Linked DNA regions of Homo sapiens. The protein of the gene in region 1 interacts with the protein of each later gene in a biochemical or structural test. Each region holds a gene or a part of one and is shown on either strand. Other genes may lie near its edges. The genes, in order: MLC1, ROCK1 and MYLK.

Region 1 (7,968 bases):
ACTCACTTTTATGGCTGGCGGGTAATCCTTAAACATCTCCACGATTCTCATGATGCTGAATGACAGATATCCAGAGGCTGTGAACAGCAGCGGAGACGTGAGGCTGCTTATGGCAATCAGGACCTCCACCTGGAAAAAAAGCGCGGGTTGCAGGACCACGGCCGGAGCCTGGGAGCCCAGGACAGCGGGCGTGGCCAGGGCTGGGGGGGCGGGCATGGCCGGGCACTCATGGGCATAGTCCCAAGCTGGTTCCCTGCATGACTCCTGCTGAAACCTCTGCCTTTTCTTTTTTCTTTTTCTTTTTTTTTTTTTTTTTTTTTGAGACAAGTCTCGCTGTGTCGCCAGGCTGGAATGCAGTGGCATGATCTTGGCTCACTGTAACCTCCGCCTCCCGGGTTCAAGTGATTCTCCTGCCTCAGCCTCCCGAGTAGCTGGGATTACAGGCGCCCGCCACCACACCCAGCTAATTTTTGTATTTTTAGTAGAGACCGTGTTTTGCCACGTTGGTCAGGCTGGTCTTGAACTCCTGACCTCAGGTGATCCACCCACCTCGGCCTCCCAAAGTGCTGTGATTACAGGCATGAGCCACCGCGCCCGGCCTGCCTTTCTTTCTTTTTTGAGAGGCAGCCTAGCTGTGTAGCCCAGGCAGGAGTGCGGTGGCACAATCTCTGATCACTGCAACCTCTGCCTCCTGGGTTCAAGCAATTCTCCCGCCTCGGCCTCTTGAGTAGCTGGGATTACAGACATGCGCCACCACACCTGGCTAATTGTTTTGTATTTTTAGTAGAGACAGGGTTTCACCATATTGTCAGGCTGGTCTTCAACTCCTGACCTTGTGATCCACCCACCTTGGCCTCCCAAAGTGCTGAGATTACAGGCATGAGCAGCCTGCCTTTTCATTCACAGCACAGTGCCACAAGTTTTGAAATACTTACCATCTAGGCAAGGTGGCTCACATCTGTAATCCAAGCACTTTGGGAGGCCGAGGAGGGCGGATCACCTGAGGTCACGAGTTCGAGACCAGCCTGGCCAACATGGTGAAACCCCCATCTCTACTAAAGATACAAAAACTAAGCGGGTGTGGTGGCGCATGCCTGTAGTCCCAGCTACTTGGGAGGCTGAGGCAGGAGAATCGCTTGAACCCGGGAGGCAGAGGTTACAATGAGCTGAGATCGTACCACTGCACTCCAGCCTGGGTGACAGAGCAAGACTCTGTCTCAAACAAACAAAACCAAGAAACAAAAAACATTTACCTGCAATTCTCCACTCTTGAAAAAATAGCCCTTCCGCATGGGTCACCTCCTTCACTGCTCTGAAGTCTGTCCTTTTAACCCACCCCAAATCTTCCTGTTTGACCCATCAAGTCTCAGAGACAGCCTTCACTCATGCCAAGCATGGGCAGTCACCTTGCAAAGCACTCAGGGTCCACATTTTGGCAGCAGTCATTAACGATCGACCAGTTCAATTGTTTGCGGTCAGTTTGTGGCAGTTTCGGCCGGGCGTGGTGGCTCACACCGGTAATCCCAGCACTTTGGGAGGTTGAGGTGAGTGGATCACCTGAGGTCAGGAGTTCGAGACCAGCCTGGCCAACATGGTGAAACCCCGTCTCTACTAAAAATACAAAAATTAGCCGGGCATGGTGGCAGGCGCCTATAATCCCAGCTACTCAGGAGGCTGAGGCAAGAGAATCACTTGAACCCGGGAGGCGGAGGTTGCAGTGAGCCAAGATCGTGCCATTGCACTCCAGCCTGGGGGACAAGAGCGAGACTGCATCTCAAAAAAGAAAAAAAAACAATCGACCAGCCTTAGGAGGTGCAGATGATGCTCAGACACTGGTCTCCTTCCAAGGGTTAGGCACAGAGAGCGCTTCCAGTGTCTACACCACCTTGTTCAGGTCTGCCTGTCCCTGAGAACAGTCCCTGCTGAGCGGGCCAGCCTCCACCTCCCACAACCCCACCTTCCTCATTGTGCAGGCCCTGCAGCCCAGTCACTGCGCTCTCTTGGGCTGGAGCCTGGTCACATGGCACCAAGGGAGGGCTAGGCCAGGCCCTGGCCCCGCTCGGTGGGTCCCTGGCACCCAGGGCTGAGGGGTTCACCCACCAGACACTTGCTGGGACACTCTGCTGCCACATGACTGGCAATGGCACTTGGAAAGCACTAAGAGAAAAGAAAAAGGAAAGATTTTAGAGGAAATAGTCGAAGAAGTCGAATTCCAAACATGTGCCCTCCCACCAGTGACCCCTCCATGCAGGCTGCCTGGCTGGCTTGCTGTGGGGGGCAGGGGGGATGGTGCAGTGCCCAAAGGCGCAGCTGGGGCAGGGACGGGTCCGCAGGGAAGCAGGGGTAGCCTCTCAGAGGTTTTGTGTGCTCTCTGTTCCTCAACCATTGGTTTAAAATTTTAAGCCTGTAGAAAAGCTGCAAGAGCAGTGGAGGGGGCATCTGAGGCCCCAAAATCACCAGAGTCCTTGACATTCATATCTGTGCTCTCTCCAGCTCTCCCAGATAGCCTGATGCCTGAACACCTGAGAGTGCTGGCTGAGCCCAGGGCACACTCTTGCACACACCCAAAGCAGGACCACGCTCGAGAGACTCCACGTGGGGCCGATGTGGTCCATGCCCAGATTCTTCCAGTTGTCCTCATCATGTTCTTTCTTTTTAATTTTTTAATAATTTTTCTTTCTTCTTCTCCTTTTTTTTTTTAAGATGGAGTCTTGCTCTGTCACCCAGGCTGGAGTACGGTGGCGCGATCTTGACTCACTGCAACCTCCACCTCCCAGGTTCAAGCCTCCTGAGTAGCTGGGATTATAGGCACCCACCACTACACCAGGCTAATGTTTGTATTTTTAGTAGAGACGGGGTTTCGCCTTGTTGGCCAGGCTGGTCTCGAACTCCTGACCTCAGGTGATCCGCCCGCCTCGGCCTCCCAAAGTGCTGGGATTACAGGCATGAGCCACCGCACCTGGCCCTGGTCATGTTATTTCTAGAGCTGTTTGTTTGTTTGCTCCTGATCCGGATTCGGTCTGCCATTGAGCTCGTAGTCTCCTTGTGGGTCCCTGTTAATCGGGGAGTCCCTCAGCCTCTGTCACCTCCGTTACCTGGTCGCTTCTGGGGGGTGCAGCCCATCAGCTGCAGTCGGGCCTCCGTGTGGGACAGGATTTCCTCATGATGAGCCTTGGGGAGCCTCGGAGGAGACTCTGCAGTGCCCCAGGGTGTGGACTGCCCCTTCCTGATGACGCTGACTTGACTCACTGGGTTAGGGGGATCTGTAGGTTCCTCTGTTGGATGGGCACCTCTTCCTTTTTATAACCAAGAAATGCCCTTTTCCCACTTATTGTGAGGAGCCTGCCTTAGTTCCGCACAATGTAGGCAGAGGGAGGATGCATGCTCTTCATCCTCTTCATCTCCCCGAAGGTGTCCAGGTGCCAGCACCCCAGCCCGGCCTGCTGGGGAGGGGGCTGCATCAGCCAGGGGCTGTGGTGAGAGGGTGGGCAGGACAGAGATGGGCTCCGAGCAGGGGAGCCTGGGCAGCAGGGAGAAGACTGGGGAGCTGAGGGGCTGCCAGTGCAAAGGCCCCAAGCCAGCTGCTGAGGTGGGTGTGGCCCTGGCCAGGGAGGCTGAGGTGTCAATACAGGGGTCTCTCCTGGGCTTGGTGCTTCTGAAAGGGCCTTCTAGCTGTAAGCAGCAGTGAGGGCACAGGAAGGGATGGTGGCTTCAGGGTGGCCTATTCAGGGCCCCAGTGAGCCATGGGAGGGCGGGAGTTTCCCCGTTCACCCAGCATGGCCACTCCGGCCCCTGCCCTAGAGGGCCAGGAAGCTCAGCCATAGGGGCTGGGGCAGCTCAATCAAGGGCCCTGCCCTGGAAGGGTCCAGGCCTGCAGCCCAGCCCCCAACTCCAGCCCCGAGCACCTGCCTCCAGCCCATGGTGCAGGGCCTGGGCCCCTCTGCCGCACCCAGGCCAGACTCAGGCAGGTGGAGCTGGGTCCCTCACCACGCATGCCTCAGCGCTCTCCTCTCCTCCTGGGGTCTCCTGCCCTGAAGAGAGGGTTGGGAGTGTGGGTGGATTTAGGGGCGCCCAGGGGGCAGCACCTGATGGGCAGGGGGTGCTCTCCGGGAAGATGGAGAGAGCAGAGCCACCCCCGAGGCAGGAGGGGTCTGCGGGATGGGAGGGGCCTCTGTGATGAGGGCTGACTGCAGGGACAGGGAAGGGGGTAGGGCAAGTGCCTTTCATTCTCAACTTTTTGGAGGTATGTGGTCTCTGTCCTCCCTCAGCTTCGGGATGTAATCCCTGCGTTTCAGACCCCAGGGTCAGTTGTACACACCTGCAGGCGTCATTCTCTCTGTCACAGACCCGCTTGGGTGGGCACCCATGTGAGTTCTCTGTCTCAGTAGCTGGGCCTGGTCCTACCCCTTCCGGGGGTGTGGCTCTATCCCAGCTCGGTCCTGCCTGGGTCTCTTTCCCTCTCTGAGCGCCTCAGCAGCCCACTAGGTCGGGCACTGGTGCCCTGGGGGCATTGCTCTGTGCCTACTCGCCCCCACAGGGAGCTGAAACACAGCTGCTGCCAATGGGATGTGTCCACCTGGCAGGCGTGGGCCCCTTCTCGGCAGTCCACCCGGCCACACCGTTCCCGGGCAGGCGTGGGCCCCTTCTCCGCAGTCCACCCGGCCATACCATTCCCGGGCAGGCGTGGGCCCCTTCTCGGCAGTCCACCTGGCCATACTGCTCCCAGGCAGGCATGGGCCTCGGCAGCTTCAGGAAGAGCCCCACTGCTGCCCAGGAGGAGCCTGTAGCTGATGCTGGGTGCTCACCATTCCTGCTCATGTACATAAGAGAGCAGGGGCAAAATCTAAAAGTCCACACAGCATGAGACAAACCAGGGGCTGGCCGTCAACACCGGTGTGCAGGCCACTACGCGGCAAGGTGCTGAGAACCTCGTGGGGTCTGCGTCCGGAGGCAGGTGGGTGGTGGCTCTGGGTGGGCTACAGGCTGTGAGGGGATCTGGGGTGTGGAGGGGTTGCTCTAGACTCACTGTTCTGAGGGAACACACCTGTAATCCCAGCACTTTTGGGGGCCGAGGCAGGCAGATCACTTGAGGTCAGGAGTTCAAGACCAGCCTGGCCAACATGGCAAAACCCGGTCTCTACTAAAAATACAAAAAAATTAGCTGGGCATGGTGGTCCACGCCTGTAATCCCAGCTACTTGGGAGGCTGAGGTGGGCAAATTACTTGAACCCGGGGAGGGGCAGAGGTTGTAGTGAGGTGATATTGAGCCACTGCACTCCAGCCTGGGTGGCAGAGTGAGACTCCATCTCAAAAAAATAAATAAATAAAATAAATAAAACAATGCCCATGTATTGAGCATGTGGCATGTGTCAGGTGCTGTGTGACACATCTGCTGCAGTAACATTTAATGTAAAGTAATAACAGAAATATGCTGCATTGTATGAAACACATAGTGTAATATAAATGCATTATATATTAGAAAATTATATAGAATAATAAACATCTACAGCCTGACATTCATATGTTAAAAAGATTAGAATAATAAAAATAATTGGTATTTTTTTCAGGAAAAATAATATAAAATAATCACACAAACTAATATAAAAGCAGTTAATACTTTGACTCATTTAATCCTTAACTCCCCAGTTCTTCTGAAGTTGGGGGCCAGCGAGGACCCTCTGTGGTGACTCTCTGTCTGAATGCACCAAGACTGAGCTCGGGGCCCAGCCACGCAGGATCTGAGCAGTGTGGCCCAGAGCGGCGGCGGGCGGGCCAGAGGGGTTACTCACGGCCACTAGGATCCAAAAGAACGTCACTGAGAGGTGTGGGCCTGAAACTGAGTCATCCACGTTCAGGGCAATGATCCCCCCGAGGACGGCAGAGATGCCTGCGATTACCTCGACGACCTGGAGGGGACAGGACAGCATCGGCTCATAAGGAAGTGGAGACACCCCCAGATTCCCAGAATGCACTGTGCAGACATGGACCCCCAGGAGCAGGGTCCAGTGGGCTGGCCCCAGATCTAACCGTGGAGGAGCCCACCTGGATGGACCCCCAGCCTCACCTGGCCCAGACCCCCTCTGCCCTCAGCTGCGGCTTTTCACGTCCCTCCTGGAGTAAAATAGCCAAAGAGGTGTTTCCCCCACTGCTGCTTTTGTCCACAGAAACTGAGGGTATTGACCTGACAGTGGTGAGGGCAGAAAACCAAGACCCTCAGACTCCCTTCCCTGTCTCACAGTGTGGCAGGCGGCGGTGCTCAGACCCTGGACCCCATCGAAGGGACTCGGGAAAACAGGCCTGGGGCAGAAGTAGCTTCCCATAGGACACACCCACCCGTGCCATGTGGGTTTGCCATTGCCACGGCAACACTGGACGTCACCACCCCTTTCCGTGGCAATGATCCAACCACCTGGACGTTAGCACCCCTTTTCTAGAAATTTCTGCATAATCTGCCCCTTAATTAGCATATACTTAAAAGTGGGTATAAATAGGAGGCAGAGCTGTCTCTGAGCTGCTGCTCGAGGCACCTGCCGGTTGGAGAGCCCTGCTATACTGCCACTGCAAACAAAGCTGCTGTCTGTCACCTCCAGCTCGCCCTTGAATTCTTTCCTGGACAAAGCCAAGAACCCTGCTGGCCTAAGCCCTGGTTGTGGACTCATCTGCCCGGCACCATCAGGGCCGCAACCAGCACCGCCAGACTCAGGGAGGGGCCGCAACCAGCACCGCCAGACTCAGGGAGGGGCCGCAACCAGCACCGCCAGACTCAGGGAGGGGCCGCAACCAGCACCGCCAGACTCAGGGAGGGCTGGGGAAGAAACACACGCCCGAAAACCTGCTCCCGTGAAGGATCTCTGTGAGTCGCAAACACAGAGCTGTGGCCAGCAGGAAAGCCAGGCATAAGGAGTGGGCCAGCAAGGGCTTGGGGGCCGGAAGGGACCTGGGCAGCCAGGCCTTGCGTCCAGAAGGCACAAAACTCCAGATGCACAAATAAAGCTGAATTCCCAGCCAGGCACGGCGGCTCATGCCTGTAATCCTAGCACTTTGGGAGGCCGAGGCAGACGGATCGTGAGGTCAGGAGTTTGAGTACAGCCTGGCCAACATGGTAAACCCCGTCTCTACTAAAAATAACAAAAATTAGCTGGGCGTGGTGGCGGGCACCTGTAATCCCAGCTACTCGGGAGGCTGAGGCGGGAGAATCGCTTCAACTCAGGAGGCAGAGGTTGCAGTGAACCAAGATCACACCACTGCACTCTAGCCTGGGCAACAGCAGGACTCCATCTCAAAAAAAAAGGAAAAAAAAAAAAGAAGCAGAACGGAAATGGAACCTAAGAGAGGACTGAAATGCTAAATAAGGGGAAGTGAAGGCACTGGGAAACACACACAGACACAGTCAAGCACACAGGAGGCTGTCCCATTGTTGGAGTAAAAAGGCAAAATGTCACTAAATGTCACAAGCTAGACAACAAGGCCAAGGCGGAGGGAAGGGGGACAGACCCCGCATGGTCTGTTTATCAAGGAGCGTATTAGAATATGAAGGGCAACCCCCAAAAGAATACTGAAAAATTTCCCATCCAAAATTAGAGGGAAAAGGAAGGACGGAGCCTCTGCCAATTCAAAAGAAGGCAGGGAAGGAGGGAAAAAGGCAAAATCAGGGAAAATGGAAAACTCAAAAGATGGTAAAAATAAGTAGAAATTTATCAGTAATAACTCTCAGAGGAAATGGGCTACATTCAAAAAGCTAGGGAGAGAGAATGACAAGATAAAGAACAAAATACAGTTACGTGCTGCTTATAACAATTATACCAAAGTACAAGGCAAGAAAAGTTGAAAGTAAGAAGGAGAAAGAGGCCAGGTGCGGTGGCTCACACCTGTAATCCCAGCACTTTGGAAGGCCTGGGTGGGTGGATCACTTGAGGTCAGGAGTTCGAGACCAGCCTGGCCAACATGCCGAAACCCTGCCTCTACTAA
Region 2 (10,877 bases), on another chromosome or scaffold:
AACAGGGTTTTGCTATGTTGCCCACGGCTGGTCTTGAGCTACCTAAGTGACCACTGGCCTTGGCCTCCCAAAGTGCTGAGATAACAGGCATGAGCCACTGTGCCTGGCCTAAACATATAAAATTGTCCTATCATAAAGTAGGGATGTTAATACCTATAGTTGGTAATACCTTGTAAAGTTGAGAATAGGATACTTTTTGTAAAGGTGAAAGTTACGTTTTAACCTTGAAACATCTTAATTTCAAGATCTTGAGGTAATAACGTAGTGGAAACATTTTTTTTTCTTTTCTAGTTTTGACCTCCTTTATGCCTACTCTTAGATGGCCCCTCTTGTGATTAATTGACATATTTTGAATGAGAATTAGGCCTGAGCAGAGTTAGCAAATGTGTTGCACACAGCACAGAACTTACATCAACCAGAACTAATGAAACCTTGGCCAAGAGTGAGTAAATCTAAGAAACATCCATTCAGGCTGGGCATGGTGGCTCACGCCTATAATCTCAGCACTTTGGGAGGCTGAGGTGGGTGGATCACAAGGTCAGGAGTTCGAGACCAGCCTGGCCAACATGGCGAAACCCCGTCTCTACTAAAAATACAAAAATTAGCTGGGCATAGTGGCAGGCGCCTGTAATCCCAGCTACTCGGGAGGCTGAGGCAGGAGAACTGCTTGAACCCGGGAGGTGGAGGTTGTAATGAGCCAAGATCGCACCACTGCACTCCAGCCTGGCAACAAGAGCAAGACTCCATTTCAAAACAAAACAAAACAAACCAGAAACATCCATTCGGCCTAAGTAGAAGGAAGATCCAAAATATTTCCTTTTACCCAGCTGGGCCCATATTATATTTCTGCCACATTATTTGGTTGTAGACTTTATTTATTTATTTATTTATTTAGATGGAGTTTCTCTCTGTCGCCCAGGATGGAGTGCAGTGGTGTGATCTCGGCTCACTGCAAGCTCCGCCTTGTGAGTTCACGCCATTCTCCTGCCTCAGCCTCCCGAGTAGTTGGGACTACAGGCGCCCACCACCACGCCTGGCTAATTTTGTTTTTGTATTTTTAGTAAAAATGGGGTTTCACCATGTTAGCCAGGCTGGTCTCAATCTCCTGACCTGGTGATGTGCCCACCTTGGCCTCCCAAAGTGCTGGGATTACAGGCGTGAGCCACTGTGCCCGGCCGGTTGTAGACTTTCTTAAATAACTAGTCTAAGTGAAAGTTAGATTCTACACTCACAGTTATCCAGGCAAATGAACCACTTAATTCAATTTAATAGCCAAACCATCCTACATGGTACAAGAAACCAATTTATAGGATTAACATACAAGTGTCACTTTATTCACAATCTTTGCATTATACACTTTATTTCTAAGCATTTATATTTTTTCCCTTGAATCTCCAACATCTCAAATACTTTATGGGAAACAGTATAGCTTGGGAGAAAGTATCATATCTTAATTCTCATAAGACAATTCATTAACATTTGGCAAAAGAAAGGAGATATTTAATCTCTTTGTATGTTAGACTTTCAATATGTGAAGTGGAATTAATGTTATTCTTTTCCTACCTCACAAAAATCTGAGTTACATATACTTTGGAGATAATCCATTAGAAAACACAGCTAACTGTTAATAACAGTTATGAAGGAATTGGTGGGGTGGGGTGGGGTTTAGGAAGTGCAGACTGACTTTCTACTAGAATATTCTTTGCATTTAATTTATTGCAATAAGCATAGATCTTGTCCAGAAAAAAAACACTAAAAGCATAAAAGATTTGGCAGTAAATATATCTAGGCCATTGAGCATGGCTTTATATATACATACTATCCAACCAGAAATTGATTTGAACAGTAAACATTATAAAAACAAAGAATAATTGTGATTAAGATTTCCAAGTGTCAGGCCAGGCACGGTGGCCTACACCTGTAATGAGAGAGTAAAACTGCTTGAGGCTAGGAGTTAGAGACCACCCTGGGCAACATAATCTCATCGGATTGTCATTATATGACTATTTATTAACCTAATGATCAACTTTAAAAATCATTTGTTTATTTAAAAAAACCATTTCCGTTTATTCATGTCTTTTTAAACTTCTCCAAATGTCTTACAATTTTCTTGGTGGAGGTCGTATACATCTTTCAGTAGATTGTTTTTAAATTTATATGGGAATGCAACCAGGCGCGGTGGCTCATGCCTGTAATCCCAGCACTTTGGGAGGCCAAGGTGGGTGTGGATCACCTGAGGTCAGGAGTTCAAGACCAGGCTGGCCAACATGGTGAAACCCTGTCTCTACTAAAAATACAAAAATTAGCTGGGCATGGTGGTGGGCACCTGTAATCCCAGCTACTCGGGAGTCTGAGGCAGGAGGATCACTTGAACCTGGGAGGCGGAGGTTGCAGTGAGCCGAGATCGCGCCACTGCACTCCAGCCTGGGCAACAAGAGCGAAACTTCGTTTCAAAACAAAAATAAAAAATTATATGGAAATGCAAAAGGCCAAGAATAGCCAAGCCAATTGGGAGGGATTACAAAGTTGGACTTCTACTACAGATATAAAATCTTATTATAAAGTTACAGTAATTAAAAGTGTGATATTGGCAAGGACACAGAAATAACACCAATGGATTGTTCACCTGAATTACGATGCAGGAAAGAAGTATTTTCAATGAATACTGCAGTATCAACTGAATATCCATATGGGAGAAATACTGCTTGATCTCTACCTCACTCTGAATTCCAGATTGATTATAGAACTGTGAAAGTTAACTATGAATTACAAACTCAAGTAACTATGAGTTTGTCATTTAAGTTCTTTTACTTATTTTTTTTACTTTAAATGAAGGGTGAATGGGTTAATTTAAGCTGAAACCCCAAATGACAGGTCATGAGTGAACCTGTGAATAATGACAGTGGCTATGTTTTCTTTGTTGCCCAAAGCTGGAGTTCCTGATCTCAGAGAAGCTTACAGGTGTGGGTGCATGGGCTAACTCAATGCTGAACCTTCATTCCACACTCCTAGTGTGTCCTCCTGTAACAAATTAGAGAGAAAGCTAGAGGCTATATTTCTCAGACTTTCTTGCAGCTAGGGGTCTGGATGTGATTTAATTTTGGCCACGTAGATGCACCTAGAGAAGGCAGACGTGAGATGCAGGCTGTGCTAAATGCCAGCAAGCAGGGTCATGGAAGTGCCTTTTCTGAGGCAGTGTGCAGACATGAGGTTCTTAAGTGGCAAGAGGAATGGTACAAAACATCTAACTGGAGGTAGATTGTAGCAAGCCTGACAAGTGTTGCAGAGAACCAGCAGTGGTAGTGTGGATTCCTGATTATGGCACTATCTGGACCCTCTCAATATTGGTATACTTGGGAGTGAGTGGTTTCCTGAACTTAGAAGAGGAAGCAGCTCTCCTGGTTGACCCAGTTCTGTAATGTGGCATTGGGAGTGATTCCTCAAAGCTCTCTCAGTTCTCAACAATTCTAAGTTCAGATTAGTATGTCATTTGGAAAGTCTTCTCTTGCTTAAACTAATTAGAATTAACTCTGTTCTCTGCAACTGGACCTTAAAATATTAGGTAATGGTGATGAGTCTGAGAAGGTAGTAAGGACACCGTCAGGAACTGTGCTGAGATTTTATCCTGTTTGCATGCTGCCAGTCACAGTTTCATGGATCCTGACAAAAGAGATGAGACCCCTGGGTCAGAGTCAGATGACTTCATTCACAGCACAGCAAAAGCAGCATAAGTTTCACGTTCCATCAGTTCCCTTTGCCCTCCAAGCCCCATGTGGGCAATGCAGAGTGGCCCAGGTGGGTGCTGAGCACACAGTGGGTTTGCATCATAGGTGGGAGACGTTATCTTTATTATACTGGACAGTAAAAGAACCCGACATCCTCACAAGGGAGAACTCTATCTTCCAAGGCTGTTTACTACATAAATATCCTTGGAAAAGATAGTCAAAAGAAAGGTTGTCAGAGCCTCTGCTTCCCTGATGTGTAGAAATGCAAGAGACCCATGGAGAATTGTTTTCCAACACACTTTAGCCAGCTTTTCATGTGAACTATTCCCACTCTTGTTTTAGAGCCCAAGACCACGTTTTATCTTTTAAAAATACACTTTAATCTAACCATGGAATTTCACAAACATTTATATACAATCAGAGACTAATTTGAAGTATGTTTTCCATTCATTTCAGCCATGAGAAAACACATTGCAGTAAAAATTAAAGATACCCATCCATAAATTACTTTTATTTCTCATTAAATGAGCACAGAGTCATTAGTATATTAATAACAGATATGTTTATTATTACATATCCATCAGTGCGGCTTTCAATACCACTTGAAACATGCATATCATCCTAGAGACGATCGGTTTTCCAGTGCTTCTTATCTGATACACATTACTGCAAAGCCATTATAAATTACTGAGGAGGTATTTGGTTAAAAAAATAAACAATAAATCATACTGTCCATATGAATCAACTCTTGTTACTGGACAAGAGTTTAACAGTATTTATCTGGTAATTCCTATGTTAACTGGAAAACATCATGGATGTATTGCCATATTTCCTTTTTATGTTGGTGCAACCTTCTACATTTTTTGCAGTTTTATAAAGTCATTATTGTAGCAGGTAGTTTGATGCAAAGATTGTACTCAATTTATGAAAGTCCAACAAACCTCTAAATATTTTAAATTAAACCAATTATCAATGAAAAACTCACTGACACACATAATTTTTTGAAAATACATTTTTTGAAATTTCTATACTTACTCATGGCAGTAAAATAATTATCTCAAATTAAGGCACTAAAAGGACAATGCAACCCCCATTGAAAGTGTTCTAAGAATAATTTACATTTCAAACAGTGCATACATTTCTTATATGTTTGTTAACTTAATGTCTTTATCATTTAAAACCACAAAGAAATACATTATACAATTATAGAAATGATGTACCCCACAAAATGCTTTTAAACTTGGTTCTTTTGTACAGTTAGTTTCCTAATGTCTCTAGTAGTAAAATAACTCAATATGGCTTGGCAAAAATGCATAGATTAAATGTAACTTTTTTTTGTCCTCTCCCATTCCCCAAACTTGCTGAAACATATACAGTATTTTGTAAAGCATAATGAAAGATATTTAATTTCTCCATCAAGTCCAACATGGGCAATCAACAGTAAGGCTTTTAAATTCTACAGTGAGGGCACTGAAGTTCAAGTGATATCACTGCTTTCTTAAAATAGTTTTGTATAGTCTTGCAAGAGCACAAAAACTTAAGTCATTAAAAAAAAAACAAAACTTCAGTTTGTCTCATTTTGAGATATTTTCTTTACTCCTTCCATGAGCTGATCTTGATAGTGATGGCTGTTCCACTTGAAAGTGAAAGTCCCTTCCTCTTACTCATATGAGGAAAACTCTGTTCTATCACGACTGACAGGCATTTTCTTATAAATCCAAAAAGGCAGCACCTTTTAAAAAAAATATATCTACCTAAGCTTTCCCCCAACTGTACTTGCATTACATAGTAATAATTAATCTAATCTACCTGTAGGCAAACCCGCAATAAAAAAAACCCTCAGTGTGTTGTGCCAAAGCAAGGACAGAAAAACAGCAATCTTAACCCTGAAGCCTGTGATATTTGTGTCAAAGAAACAGCCTGTCTGCTCTGCATGGTTAAAGAAGCCTGGTTTATCAGGTAGCATCCCACACGATTCCACAGGGCACTCAGTCACATGGTTAACTGTTGAGGGAGGGGGAAAAAACTAATTTAAGAAATGCACTCAGTTTAAAAATACAAGAAACAAACATTAGGAGGAAAGGTAAATATACATTATCTTTACATAAAATAATTAACAATTACACAAAATTTGGAAAACAAGGAATAGGAAAAATATACTTAGTATTCTCTCCTCTTTGTTTCTACACATTTTCTTACTCAGCTATAATCTCATTTCAAATCATTTTAGATCCAGTTTACAACCTATGCTCAGGAGAAGGCTGACATAGCATTCTACAGAATTAAGTTAGCAGTAAGGTGATAATACCTGGCATAGTATGGTGGCTGAGAAAGGAAAGGATATAAGTCATTTCAAAGAATTAGGCCTGGTTACTGACAATAGGGCATGAACAAAAGGGATGAATTCAAGATGGCTTTAAGCCTGCTTGGAAGATGTAGGTGACATTGGCAGCGAGGCAAATCAGTGTTAGGTCTCAGCTTCTAATTCGAGTGGCCCTATTAATCTAGGGAGTACACTCTAGGGAAGGTGGTATGTGGTAGAATAGAGGCTTTGGAATTGGACAACATAGGCTTTAGAATTGGACAGAAATGGTTTCCAATCCATTGGCTGTGTGATTGAGCAAACTGCTTAATTTCTCTGAGCCTTATTTACTAATGTGTAAAATGAGAACTTAATGAGATGAGATTTCATTATTTCTCTCCAAGAAAGAGTTAACTGCCTGGTGCGGTGGCTCATGCCTGTAATCGCAGCACTTTGGGAGGCCCAGGAAGGTGCATCACCTGAGGTCAGGAGTTCAAGACCAGCCTGGCCAACATGTTAAACTCCATCTCTACTAAAAATACAAAAATTAGCAGGCCGTGGTGGCATGTGCCTGTAATTCCAGCTACTCAGGAGGCTGAGGTGGGAGAATAGCTTGAACCTGGGAGGCAGAGGTTGCAGTGAGCTGAGATTGCGCCACTGCACTCTGGCCTGGGTGACAGAGCGAGACTCTGTCTCAAAATGAATGAATGAATGAATGAATGAATGAATGAATGAATGGTTATGCCTTATAATTGTTTATCATGGCATAAAACATATTTTTGGAAAAAAGTCCATCAAAAATAGTTAAACAGCCAGGCATGGTGGCTCACGCCTGTAATCCCAGCACTTTGGGAGGCTGGGGCATGCAGATCATTTGAGGTCAGGAGTTTGAGATCAGCCTGGCCAACATGATGAAACCCTCTCTCTACTAAAAATACAAAAATTAGCCAGGCGTGGCATGCGTCTGTAATCCCCGCTACTTGGGAGGCTGAGGCTGGAGAATTGCTTGAACTTGGGAGGTGGAGGTTGCAGTGAGCTGAGATAGCGCCACCACTGCACTCCAGCCTGGGTGACAGAGTGAGACTCTGTCTCAAAAAACAAAAAAAAAAAGGGGGTCATGAGTTCACATCCTTTGAAGGGACATGGATGAAGCTGGAAACCATCATTCTCAGCAAACTAACACAGGAATAGAAAACCAAACACCACAGGTTCTCACTCGTAAGTGGGAGTTGAACAATGAGAAAACATGGACACAGGGAGGGGAACGTCACGCACCAGGGCCTGTCGAGGGATGGGGGGCTAGGGCAGGGATAGCATTAGGAGAAATACCTAATGTAGATGATGGGTTGATGGGTGCAGCAAACCACCATGGCACGTGTATACCCATGTAACAAACCTGCATGTTCTGCACATATATCCCAGAACTTAAAGTATAATAATTAAAAAAACATAGTCACTGATAATACCAAATAATTTTGTATGTTGGGATAGTATGGGAAGTTAACAAAAAAGGGAAAAACAATTTTGGTTTTTGTAGAAAAACTATGCCAACACAGTTAAAAAACAGAAAAGATGATGAAAAGTTTTATATGAATTTCTGCATTAAAAAAATTAAGTTGGTTAAAGCATTAAGGGCTAAAACTATGCCATGTACAGCAACTTATGACAATAAAATTAGACACAGAACTAAATAAATATAATATTGCATGTATTATTATTATTAAACTCTAACAAGAATAAGTTAAACTAATTTATAAAGTCACTGCAATTCACATACAAATACCTAAAAATGATGCCCTCTGTGGTGAAAAGCACAATTAGATTTCTGATTTTAATAGCTGTTATCCAATCATTTTCACATTGTTAAAAACGTTAGCATTTCAAATCCTTACCTAGTTTTTCCAGATGTATTTTTGACCACTTTCCGGAAAGACTGATTTGCAGTGGATCTTGTAGAAAGCGTTCGAGGGGAAGCACGAACAAAACCAGATGGTGGATTCTTAGGGATTTTCTTTACTAAATGAGTTACCCATTTTTTTTGTTCATCCTGAGAACATGCTAACAGCAGCATATCTCTTGCTGATGTTACATCATAACTTACTATGTTAAGGAGGAAAAAAAAAGCATAATTAAAGCCATATAGTTTTTTAAAATCCAACCTATCAAATGCATAGTTTTTCAAGTTCTTAAGGTTTTAAAAGTTTTAATATGCTTAATTAAGCATGAACAATATCTCATTCTCCTTAAGTTAAATAAGGCTGAAATTAAAAAAAAAAATTAGTCAAACTAATAAAGTAAAATCAGAAATATAACAAAATGTAAAACAAATAAATGTATTTAAAGAACATAAGCTTCTTATCTGAAAATAGCTATGGTCTGTATTCTTTCCCTCAAGCTACCTCTGTAAAACTAGAAGATATTCTGTGATACAGCATGCATGCTGATCCAGGCAGTGAATGCCAGACAAAAAGAAGAGGAAAAACTCAAGGGAGGAATAGAGTGGAACTCACCTGTTGCTCTTCTCTCCAACTTGGAATAATTTCTTAGCAGCATGTTTGTTTGTTTTTGTTTGTTTACAAGGGGGTGATTCTCTTTAAAAACACTGTTGGCCGGGCGTGCAATGGCTCACACCTGTAATCCCAGCACTTTGGGAGGCCGAGGTGGGTGGATCACCTGATGTCAGGAGTTCGAAACCAGCCTGGACAACATGGTGAAACTCCATCTCTACTAAAAATACAAAATTAGCCGGGTGTGGTGGCACACGCCTATAGTCCCAGCTACTCAGGAGGCTGAGATAGGAGAATCACTTGAACCTGGGAGGCAGAGGCTGCAGTGAGCTGAGATCACGCCACTGCACTCCAGCCTGGGCGAGACAGAGTGAGAATCCATCTCAATCAATCAGTCAATCAATAAAAATAAATAAAAACATTTTTAAAAGCTAAATCTGTAAATAGCTGCATATTGCCCCACCAGTGTCAAAATAATACTTTCTATAATCTCTTTTCAACTTGGTATAGAAATCACTACACATAAGTTAGTTCATTGAGACTTAAAATTAAATTTGTTATAAGTTGTAACAATAATTACCATGCCTTACCTTTACATGGACAAATTAAGTCCTCTTTCTTATCTAAGTGATCTCTGTGGCACTTAACATGGCATCTTCGACACTCTAGGGCAGGGGGTGGCTTAAAAACATGCCAGAGAGGTTTGGCACAGGCATCACAATTGGCAGGAAAGTGGTAGAGTGTAGGAATAAACTCATGGCCTTTGTGATTTTGGAAATTAGTTTTTTCAGCTTGTTGTACTGGTTCCATCTCTACATCTTTTCTACATTCACCTTCATTTGCATATAGTATCTACATTCAGGAATGGTGAAAGGAAAAGATTTTAAAAATCTTAAGCATTGGTATATTTTACATTTACTTCACAAAAACGCTTAGGACTTAGATTCTTTAAAATTATAACTTCAGATTTTTACCTGGAATATTTTAGGAATTTCTTCAGTTTCAGCTCTATACACATCTCCTTGGGTTACAGGTCTAACGTGAAACAGTTTACTAAAATGAAAATAAATACAGGCCATTTACAAAAACTCATTTATTGTAAAAGACATTTCACTAAAGAGGACATATGGGTGATAAATAAGCACACAAAAAGATATTCAACATCATCAGTCATTAGAGAAATGCAAATTAAAACCACAATAAGTGTCACTACACATCTATCAGAGTTAAAAAAAATAAAAACAGTAGTAACATCAAATGCTTGTGAGAATGCAGAGAAAGTAAATCACTCATATACTGCTGATGGAAACATAAAATTACACAGCCACTCTGGAAAAAGAATATGGCAATTTCTTAGAAAACTAAACATATGCTTACCATATAACCCAGCAAATTGCACTGTTGGGCCTTTAATTTCAAGAAACAAAAATTCATATAACATTTTATATCTATTTAAAAAAACCTGCACATAGATGTTCATAGGAGCTTTATTCATAATAACCAAAACCTAGAAACAACCCAAATAAATGGGTAAGCAAACTGTGATACATCTATACTATGGAATACTACTCAACAAGAAAAAAACAAATTATACTTGGATTGATCTTAAGGGAATTATACTGAATGGGAAAAAAAGCTGATCAGAAAAGATTACACATTATTTGATTCCATTCATATAACACTCTTGAAGAGACAAAATTATGGAGATGGAGAACAGATTAATGTTGCTATGGATTAGGGAGAGGTGGAGGAAGGAAGCTGCCTTTTGACTACAAAAGGAGTAGCACAGGGACACTTGTGATGGAATTGTTCTGTATTTTGAGTGTGGTGGTGGTCATACAAATCTATACACGTGAGAAAGGCATACAGATTGGAAAGAAAGGAGTAAAACTCTTTATTTGGCGATGACATGATTGTATGCAGTTGTCTCGTGGTATCTGTGGCAGATTGGTCCCAGGACCCAGGAGGATTTTGAAGAGAGAGAGTGAAAGAGAAAGAGAGAGAAAGAGAGGGAAGGAGGGAAGAGACAGGAAAAAAAGAAAAGATAAGAAATGGTGTAGTATTTGTATATAACCTAAGTACACCTTCCTGTATATTTAAAATTGTCTCTAGATAATATCTAATATAATGTAAATGCTATGGAAATTGTTATTATATTATATTGTTTAGAGAAAAACAAAACTGTACATATTAAGTACAGACACAACCACAATAGGCCTAACTACATTTTCAATCCATGTTTGGATGAATATACAGATGCAGAACCCATGGATACAGAGGGCTGACTGTGTGTAGAAAAGCTCTGTGGAATTGATCCCAAAACCCCACAACCCTATAAAACTG
Region 3 (9,661 bases), on another chromosome or scaffold:
TCGAAAAAACAATTTCTAAAATTATTTTGAAAAAACAACATTGAAAAGAACATTAGAATTCTTGATTTCTTATGTATAATTTTTATTCTGGTTAGGGCTCATATTAGCCTGTTTGCATTGCTATAAAGGAATACCTGAGGCTGGAAAATTTATAAAGAAAAGAAGCTTATTTGGCTTGGTGCCAGTATCTGCATCCAGTGAGGCCTCAGGATGCTTTTAATCATAGCAGAAGCAGGCATGTCACATGGCAAGTGAGAGAGCGAGAGAGAAGGACGTGCCACGTTTTAACAACCAGATCCGCATGAAATGACAGAGCAATAACTCACCCATTACCTCGGGAAGGGCACCAAGACATTCATGAGGGATCGGCCTCCATGACCCAAACACCTCCCACCAGGCCCCACCTCCAACACTGGGGATCACATTTCAACATGAGATTCAAGGGGCACAAATATCCAAACCGTATCAGGGCTACAATTTTTTTCCTATAAAAATACTTCACCAACATTTAAGAGAAAGTCAGGTGGAATATATTGTATATTTTTAAATGTATGTATATATATGACTTTAAAAGCGGGGTACATGTATATACTATGTACCTGCAAACAAAATGCATAATGTTGGTAATGCTTCTGTACATATATATGTACACATACACATTAAATACATATAATATATATTTTATATGCATGTGTATTTTATTTTTTAATGCTGAACTTTGCAGAGATATGACTAATGCATAAAGGCTCATTGGTGAGGTCCATTTCCAATTGTCCATAGGCAAATTACCTGCTTTGGATCAGACTAAGACAAATATTGCTTTCTTCTTCTTAGCAATATTATCAGCTCTTTTAAATTATGTTTTATATAGCTGTTATTAGCTTTATTCAGTTATAATTTATATACTATAAAATTCACCTATTTTAAATGCACAATTCAATTATTTTTAATGAATTTATACCACAATCCAATTTTAGAACATTTTCATCACTCCAAAAAGATCCCTTGTTCCCATTTTGTTTTGACTCTTATTTTTCATTTAAATTATTTCACTTAAACTATTATACAAAATTGAAAATTTAGGCTGGGCATAGTGGCTCACGCCTGTAATCCCAACACTTTGGAAGGCCAAGGCAGGCAGATCACTTGAGTCCAGGAGATCAAGACCAGCCTGGGCAACATGGTGAAACCCTATCTCTACAAAAAATACGAAAATTAGCTGGGTGTGGTGGTGTGTACCTGTAGTCTGAGCTATGCAGTAGGCTGAGGTGGAAGGATCACTTGAGCCTGGACATTGGAAGTTGCAGTGACCCGAGATCATGCTGCTGCACTCCTGCCTAGGCAACATAGTGAGACTCTGTCTCAAAAAAAAAAAAAGATAGAAAATTGTATTTTCGGCCGAGCACAGGTAGCTCACACCTGTAATCCCAGCACTTTGGGAGGCCAAGGCAGGCAGATTACCTGAGGTCAGGAGATACAGACCAGCCTGGTCAACATGCTGAAACCCTGTCTCTACTAAAAATACAAAAATTAGCCGGGTGTCGTGGCGTGCACCTGTAATCCCAGCTACTCAGAAGGCTGAGGCACAAGAATCACTTGAACCAAGGAGGCGGAGGTTACAGTGAGCCAAGATCACGCTACTGCACTCCAGCCTGGGCGACAGAGTGAGACTCTGTCTCAAAAAAAAAAGGAAAAAGAAAATTGTATTTTCAATCTAAGAAGGTATTCAGATCTAGGTGTAGAGTTGGAATTGGAGCAGTATTTCAGGTAGTACTCTATTTTTAATTTTTATTTTTTTGCCATGTTGGCCAAGCTGGTCTTGAACTCCTGCCCACCTTGGCCTCCCAAAGTGCTGGGATTACAGGTATGAGCCACCATGCCTAGCCTCAGGTAGTACTCTATGTCTGTTTAAAGATGGGTGGGTGTGGTGGCTCACACCTGTAATCCCAGCACTTTGGGAGGTCAAGGTCAGAGGATCACTTGAGCCCAGGAGTTTGAGACCAGCCTGGGCAACATAGGGAGACCCTGTCTTTACAAAAAAAAAACTTTTTAAAAAATTAGCCAGGCATGGTGGCATGTACCTATAGCTCCAGCTACTTGGGAGGCTGAGGGAGGAGGATCACTTGAGCCCAGGAAGTTGAGGCTGCAGTGAGCCATGTTCATGCCACTGCACTCCAGCCTAGGTGATAGAATGAGACCCTGCCCCCCTACCCCCCAAAAAGTGAAAGGTGTGATGTTTAACTGAGCACGGTCGCTCATGCCTATAGTCTCACTACTCAGGAGGCTGAGAAGGGAGGATCGTTTGAGCCCAGGAATTTGAGCAACAGTAAGCTACGATCATGCCACTACACTCCAGCCTAGGCAACAGAGTGAGACTCATCACTTTAAAAAAATAAAAAAACTATTAAATAAGTTTTTTAATAGGTGGGATGTGGTGCTAGTCCAACATGTGTGGGAAATGGAACAACTTTAAAATATTCTATTTGGGGTTTCAGATATTGGTATTTACAAGACATGTCCATATTCTAATGTAGATATCAAAACAGTCGATAAAGGCCAACATCAAAATTTTCTCCTTAACCACCTTAATCAATAGTGGTAGCTTACAAGTTGCTTGCATGAGTTGATAAGAAATTTTGAATAACAGTTCCTGCAACTTGTGTTCTCTCCCTGTGATGCAGGATACCCAGACCCCGAGGTTGTCTGGTTCAAAGATGACCAGTCAATCAGGGAGTCCCGCCACTTCCAGATAGACTACGATGAGGACGGGAACTGCTCTTTAATTATTAGTGATGTTTGCGGGGATGACGATGCCAAGTACACCTGCAAGGCTGTCAACAGTCTTGGAGAAGCCACCTGCACAGCAGAGCTCATTGTGGAAACGATGGAGGAAGGTGAAGGGGAAGGGGAAGAGGAAGAAGAGTGAAACAAAGCCAGAGAAAAGCAGTTTCTAAGTCATATTAAAAGGACTATTTCTCTAAAACTCAAAAAAAAAAAAAAAACTCAAGATAGTAAAAGCACCTAGTGTGATAGATTATCGGTTAGGTCATTTGTGGGTTGATTCTTCAGAAACAGCAGTTGATACCTAGCAGCGTTATTGATGGGCATTAATCTATGTTAGTTGGCACCTTAAGATACTAGTGCAGCTAGATTTCATTTAGGGAAATCACCAGTAACTTGACTGACCAATTGATTTTAGAGAGAAAGTAACCAAACCAAATATTTATCTGGGCAAAGTCATAAATTCTCCACTTGAATGCGCTCATGAAAAATAAGGCCAAAACAAGAGTTCTGGGCCACAGCTCAGCCCAGAGGGTTCCTGGGGATGGGAGGCCTCTCTCTCCCCACCCCCTGACTCTAGAGAACTGGGTTTTCTCCCAGTACTCCAGCAATTCATTTCTGAAAGCAGTTGAGCCACTTTATTCCAAAGTACACTGCAGATGTTCAAACTCTCCATTTCTCTTTCCCCTTCCACCTGCCAGTTTTGCTGACTCTCAACTTGTCATGAGTGTAAGCATTAAGGACATTATGCTTCTTCGATTCTGAAGACAGGTCCCTGCTCATGGATGACTCTGGCTTCCTTAGGAAAATATTTTTCTTCCAAAATCAGTAGGAAATCTAAACTTATCCCCTCTTTGCAGATGTCTAGCAGCTTCAGACATTTGGTTAAGAACCCATGGGAAAAAAAAAATCCTTGCTAATGTGGTTTCCTTTGTAAACCAGGATTCTTATTTGTGCTGTTATAGAATATCAGCTCTGAACGTGTGGTAAAGATTTTTGTGTTTGAATATAGGAGAAATCAGTTTGCTGAAAAGTTAGTCTTAATTATCTATTGGCCACGATGAAACAGATTTCAACTGATAAAGAGCTGGAGAACTCCATGTACTTTGGAATCTCCTCCAAGATAGCCAGAGTTTAATACATCTTCATTCTCAACACTCTCCAAAGAACTTGACCTACCTTATGGGTTCCATATTTTTCTTCTTAAATGTGCATCAATCATGCCTTGCCCCCAACCTTTAAATATATTCTTAGACCTGGTAAATGCACTCAGACTTGCGTCTTTAGGAATTTTTAACTTTCTTTCACTACATTGGCACTTAAATTTTTTCTTTATAAAGCTTTTTGAAGGTCATAAACAAAGACCATAATTGATGATAGACCTAATACATTTCCTCTGTGTGTGTGTGTAACATTCCAAATACTTTTTTTTTCTTTTCCACTGTTTGTAAGGTGCAACAATTTAATATTTTTAAGGGACTTTTTAAGAGTTCCTTAAGAACCAATTTAAAATTACTTCAGTGCAATCCTACACAGTATCAACATTAGAATTTTGATATTAGTCTTATGTTATCTTCCATTCTATTTTTATCTGCTTTTTGCTGCTAGTTTCAAACTGCCAGTATTTTTCCTTTTGCTTTTAAAATAGTTACAATATTTTTCATGATAGCCACAGTATTGCCACAGTTTATTATAATAAAGGGTTTTTATTTGATTTAGCGCATTCAAAGCTTTTTTCTATCACTTTTGTGTTCAGAATATAACCTTTGTGTGCGTGTATGTTGTGTGTGTGCATGTGTGGCGTATATGTGTGTTACAGGTTAATGCCTTCTTGGAATTGTGTTAATGTTCTCTTGGTTTATTATGCCATCAGAATGGTAAATGAGAACACTACAACTGTAGTCAGCTCACAATTTTTAAATAAAGGATACCACAGTGCATGCTGTTTGTTCAATCTTTGCAGACTTCTCTTTCTTTCCATGCTACCAGTTGTAAAGGACACAGCTATATCCTGGAAATGAAAAACAAACACTGTGGTGCCTAGATGTGAAGAACTGGCTTATGTGGTTGTGTTTTGCTATGGAACAGAATGATTTAGGAAGTTCTTGTTTATATAGGTAGCCGAATTTACACATTTAGTTCAAAATTTCTCTTGAGCATCAGCTTAGTACTATATCAATCATTCTAGAAGGATATCTTATAGAGCAGGTGTCCCCAACCCCCGGTAAGTAGCCTGTTAGGAACCAGGTCACACATAAGGAGGTTAGCAGTGGGCAAGTGAGCAAAGCATCATCTATATTTACAGCCGATCCCCATTGCTCGCATTACCGCCTGAGCTCTGCCTCCTGTCAGATCAGCGGCAGCATCAGGTTCTCTCAGGAACGAACTCTATTGTGAACTGCTCATGTGAGGGATCTAGGTTTCACGCTCCTTATGAGAATCTAACACCTGATGATCTGTCACTGTCTCCCATCACCCCTAGATGGGACAGTCTAGTTGCAGGAAAACAAGCTCAGGGCTTCCACTGATTCTACATTATGATGAGTTGTATACTTATTTTATATTATAATAAAATATATTATTACAATGTAATAATAATAGAAATAAAATGCACAATACATGTAATGTGCTTGAATAATCCCAAAACCACCCCCTCTCCTGGTCCATGGAAAAACTGTCTTCCATGAAAGTGGTCCCTGGTGCCAAAAAGGTTAGGGACCACTGTTACAGAGTATCAGGTCCTCAAGATGCTAAAATCTATATGACATTTTTAACATGTGACATTATCATCATCATCATCATCATCATCACTGATGATACTATTTACCAGGGCATGGTTTGAATTGGTGACTTTGGTGCAGTTCATTATTGGCAGCCAAATGCTTTATCCATACCTTCATATTGAAGAATTTGTTATCAGGAAACTACCAGTCCTGCTTTACAGGAAGTCTGTTATCAGATATCAGATGGCAAGTTCCCCATGTCTTCAGATGTTCAAACAATATTGTGGATGGTCTAGAAAGAGTTTAAGACATGCTGTTAAATGTAGGGCTAGATAATTCTCTGATTCTTTGATGTAGTCTGGAAAGAAACAATCCATTGTCCAGTTAATAAATATTTAGTGTTTTCATTTTTAAGACACTCACAATCCACAAATGTCCCTAACAATTTATTATTTTTAAAGAAAATGACTTTTTATTCCTTGCTAGTGAAAAATGTACAATTTATATGCTGCACTGAGAAAAATAACAGATATACTTTCTTCCATTCATTTTCATCCCAAACATATAAAAAATAATCCATTGATTGTTCCTTGCATTGCATATCTTATTAAAAGATATTTCCTACATGCAACTAATAAGACATGCTGACTGTTGTCAGCTCTAAATTTATGTAAAGATTTTTTATTTTTGTTAAAATGTTTGAAATTTGCTTTTTGCTCCACACCTCACCTGTTTTTGATAAATCTGTGCTAATAAGTACATAGGAGGTAATAAATAATTGAGTTGTGAGAAACCCAATTCTCCATTTTTCAAGAAAACACAAGTAGCACTACTCTCTTTATCCCTTGGGACTCCTTCCTGTAATTTGAAAGGGGGGGCTAATGTTGGTGGCAGTTGTTGCTAAGGATCTCTGCACAGAGTTAGGGCTTCACTCTCGGCTTCCTGGTTAGATGGGGCCATGTGACTAGTCCTAGTCAGTGAGCTGTGACCAGAAGTGATGTATGTACCCTCGGGACCAGAGCATTTATGTGCTGGTACAAGCCTCTCCATAATGACGGGCAACACATGAGATGGTGGCTGCTGCAGCCATCTGGGTCTCTAGCCAACCCAAAATGGGGACATAACACAAGCAAGAAATAAACATTTGTTCTTATAAATCACCAAGATTTTGGGGTTCTCAGTGGCTGCAACATAACCTAGACTATCCTGATACAGGCTTATCACCATGTTCTGGATGTGTGGTGACCAGGATGGTAGCCACTACTCACAAGTGGCTATTTAAATTTAAGTTACTTTAAAAAATAAAATAAAAAATTCAGTTCCTCAGTTGTATGAGTTACATTTCAAATGCTCGACAGTCACATGTACATCACTTTTCAAATTATGTGAAATTAAAACTGAAAAGCTTGTGTGAAAGTCTAGAGAGTATGGTCTATAGTTTCATCAATTGTATTGGATAATATAGTCTCGATACTCAAGTGTTGTTGTTCTTAATTCTTTATTTATATTCAAATATAGTTTTTCACTTTTTAAGACATTTTAAAGGCTGGGTACAGTGGTACACACCTGTAGTCCCAGCACTTTGGGAGGCCAAGGCAGGAGAATCGCTTGAGGCCAGAAGTTCAAGACCAGCCTGCACAACATAGCAAGACCCCATCTCTATTTCTTTAAAAAAAATTAATTAAAAAATAAAAAGACATTTTAAAAGTACCAGTTCTGGCCAGGCGCGGTGGCTCACGCCTGTAATCCCAGCACTTTGGGAGGCCAAGGCAGGCGGATCACGAGGTCAGGAGATCGAGACCATCCTGGCTAACACGGTGAAACCCCGTCTCTACTAAAAATACAAAAAATTAGCCGGGCGTGATGGCGGGCGCCTGTAGTCCCAGCTACTCGGGAGGCTGAGGCAGGAGAATGGCATGAACCCGGGAGACAGAGCTTGCAGTGAGCGGATATTGCGCCACTGCACTCCAGCCTGGGCGACAGAGTGAGACTCCATCTCAAAAAAAAAAAAAAGTACCAGTTCTATGCTTCTGACCTCAAAATCTAAATAGTCCTGCAATTCACAAGCAACTCTCAGATTATTTCTGATATGAGACAACCAACAAGGCCAACATTCTCCAACGTCTTTGGAATTTGCTACTTGAGATGGGGGATCACCAGTGGGGACTATGAGATGGATGCAGAAAGGGAGACAGGGCTGCTGAGGCAGAATTTCCTCAACCATGGGTCAAAAGGCAGAGGAGCCATCCTGAGGCTACAATCCTTCCAAACTCAGCTGCCTTTTATCAGAACTCCCTTCCCACTGGAATTCAAAACACTCAGGAGATCTAAAGTGCTTGGGGACAACATTGAATTTCTAACCGCTGCTGGCTGGAGATTTTAGCCCATAGGCCTTACCCGTGTTCCAAATGCTTATACCCTGCAGGAAGCGCTTCATGTCAGAGACTTCAGTCCCCCGAGTCTCTGTTTGAGGCCTGTGGTAAATTTTCACAAGATATTTTGTGACTCTCTTAGACTAGATTTCTTTCGGCTGGAGATAACTAAGGGAGAAGGAGGTTACAAATTAACCTAAGTCAATTTGGTCATTCATATTTATTATTAATAACATCTTTAAGGCAGGTATCAGTAGCCTCCAATAGTTAAGATAAGATTGAGCTATGGGGCTTCTCCACAACCACGCTTCAGGTGGTATGTTTCAAAGATAGTCTCAGGCCAAACTTGTCAAACACCTATTAGCCAGCAGCCATACAACCGATTCTGCAAGCTCCATGAAGTCCCAGATATGCCTCTCCAGAAAGCACCTTGCATGTTGTCACTGAAGGCAAATCCTGCAGTGTGCTTGGGTAGGAGGCAGCTAACCTGGTTAATCAGTGGAGTCAGTTCCTCTTGGTGCTATCCTAGGAACCAACTTGTCCAACTTACCCACCATTTTCATTCCCTCTGTAAAATAAGTTACTACCTCTTACCTCTACCTCTTACTACAGCTGTGTAGCTTGTGCCTCAGTTTCCACAGTTATAAAATTAGAGTTATAGTAGTTCCTCACTCATGGCTTGATAGAAAGATTAAACAAGCTCTATGTGCCTGACCTTATGGTACGCCCTCATTCTGGCACTCAGAGATGCTAAGATGTATCAGAAACAATCTCTACTCTGAAAGAACAGATTACATTTCTGCAGGAAAAAAAAAACCCCAAATATGTGAAAAAGTTATATTCAGTCAGCCCTCTGTATCCATGCATTCCAAATCTATGGATTCAATCAACTGGAGATGAAAAATATTTGGTGGGAGGCTAGGTGTGGTGGCTCGTGCTTGTAATGCTAGCACTTTGGGAGGCCGAGGTGGGCAGATCACCTGAGGTCAGGAGTTCAAGACCAGTCTGGCCAATATGGTGAAACCCTGTCTCTACTAAAATATAAAAATTAGCTGAGCATGATGGCAGGTGCCTGTAATCCCAGCTACTAAGGAGGCTGAGACAGGAGAATTGCTTGAAACCGGGAGACAGTGGTTGCAGTGAGCCGAGATCACACCACTGCACTCCAGCCTGGGTGGCTGAGCGAGATGCTGTCCCCAAAAAAAAAAAAAAATATATATATATATATATATATATATATATATATATATATATATATATATAAATAAACTATATATGTAAAATTATATATAATATATAAAATATATATTATATATAATATATAAAATATATATACTATATATCATATATATTATATTATATATTATATATAAAATATATTATTATATTTATATATTATATATAAAATATATATATAATATAAAATATAGTATATAAAATGTAAAATATATATAGTATATAAAATATAAAATATATATAGTATATAATATAAAATATATAGTATATAATATAAAATATATATAGTATATATAATATAAAATGTATAGTATATATAATATAAAATGTATAGTATATATAATATAAAATATATAGTATATATAATATAAAATGTATAGTATATATAATATAAAATATATAGTATATATAATATAAAATATATATTATATATTATATATAATATAAAATTATATATTATAAAATATATATTATATATAATATAAAATATATATTATAAAATATATATTATATATAATATAAAATATATATTATATATATTATATAATA

What was found.
Region 2: of the proteins of MLC1 (region 1) and ROCK1, one has a biochemical effect on the other in vitro, tested with the Homo sapiens proteins (one study listed by BioGRID).
Region 3: of the proteins of MLC1 (region 1) and MYLK, one has a biochemical effect on the other in vitro, tested with the Homo sapiens proteins (one study listed by BioGRID).

What each region holds. Positions count from the first base shown.
Region 1 is NC_000022.11:50,068,427-50,076,394, forward strand, and holds part of MLC1 (membrane protein MLC1), read right to left. Parts: intron 5,907-7,968; coding exon 5,790-5,906; intron 2,158-5,789; coding exon 2,101-2,157; intron 130-2,100; coding exon 7-129; intron 1-6. UniProt on the Homo sapiens protein: Transmembrane protein mainly expressed in brain astrocytes that may play a role in transport across the blood-brain and brain-cerebrospinal fluid barriers. Regulates the response of astrocytes to hypo-osmosis by promoting calcium influx.
Region 2 is NC_000018.10:20,945,659-20,956,535, forward strand, and holds the end of ROCK1 (rho-associated protein kinase 1), read right to left. Parts: intron 9,588-10,877; coding exon 9,509-9,587; intron 9,387-9,508; coding exon 9,125-9,386; intron 8,128-9,124; coding exon 7,920-8,127; intron 5,730-7,919; coding exon 5,726-5,729; 3' UTR 1,248-5,725; downstream 1-1,247. UniProt on the Homo sapiens protein: Protein kinase which is a key regulator of the actin cytoskeleton and cell polarity.
Region 3 is NC_000003.12:123,607,370-123,617,030, reverse strand, and holds the end of MYLK (myosin light chain kinase, smooth muscle), read left to right. Parts: intron 1-2,681; coding exon 2,682-2,926; 3' UTR 2,927-6,982; downstream 6,983-9,661. UniProt on the Homo sapiens protein: Calcium/calmodulin-dependent myosin light chain kinase implicated in smooth muscle contraction via phosphorylation of myosin light chains (MLC). Also regulates actin-myosin interaction through a non-kinase activity.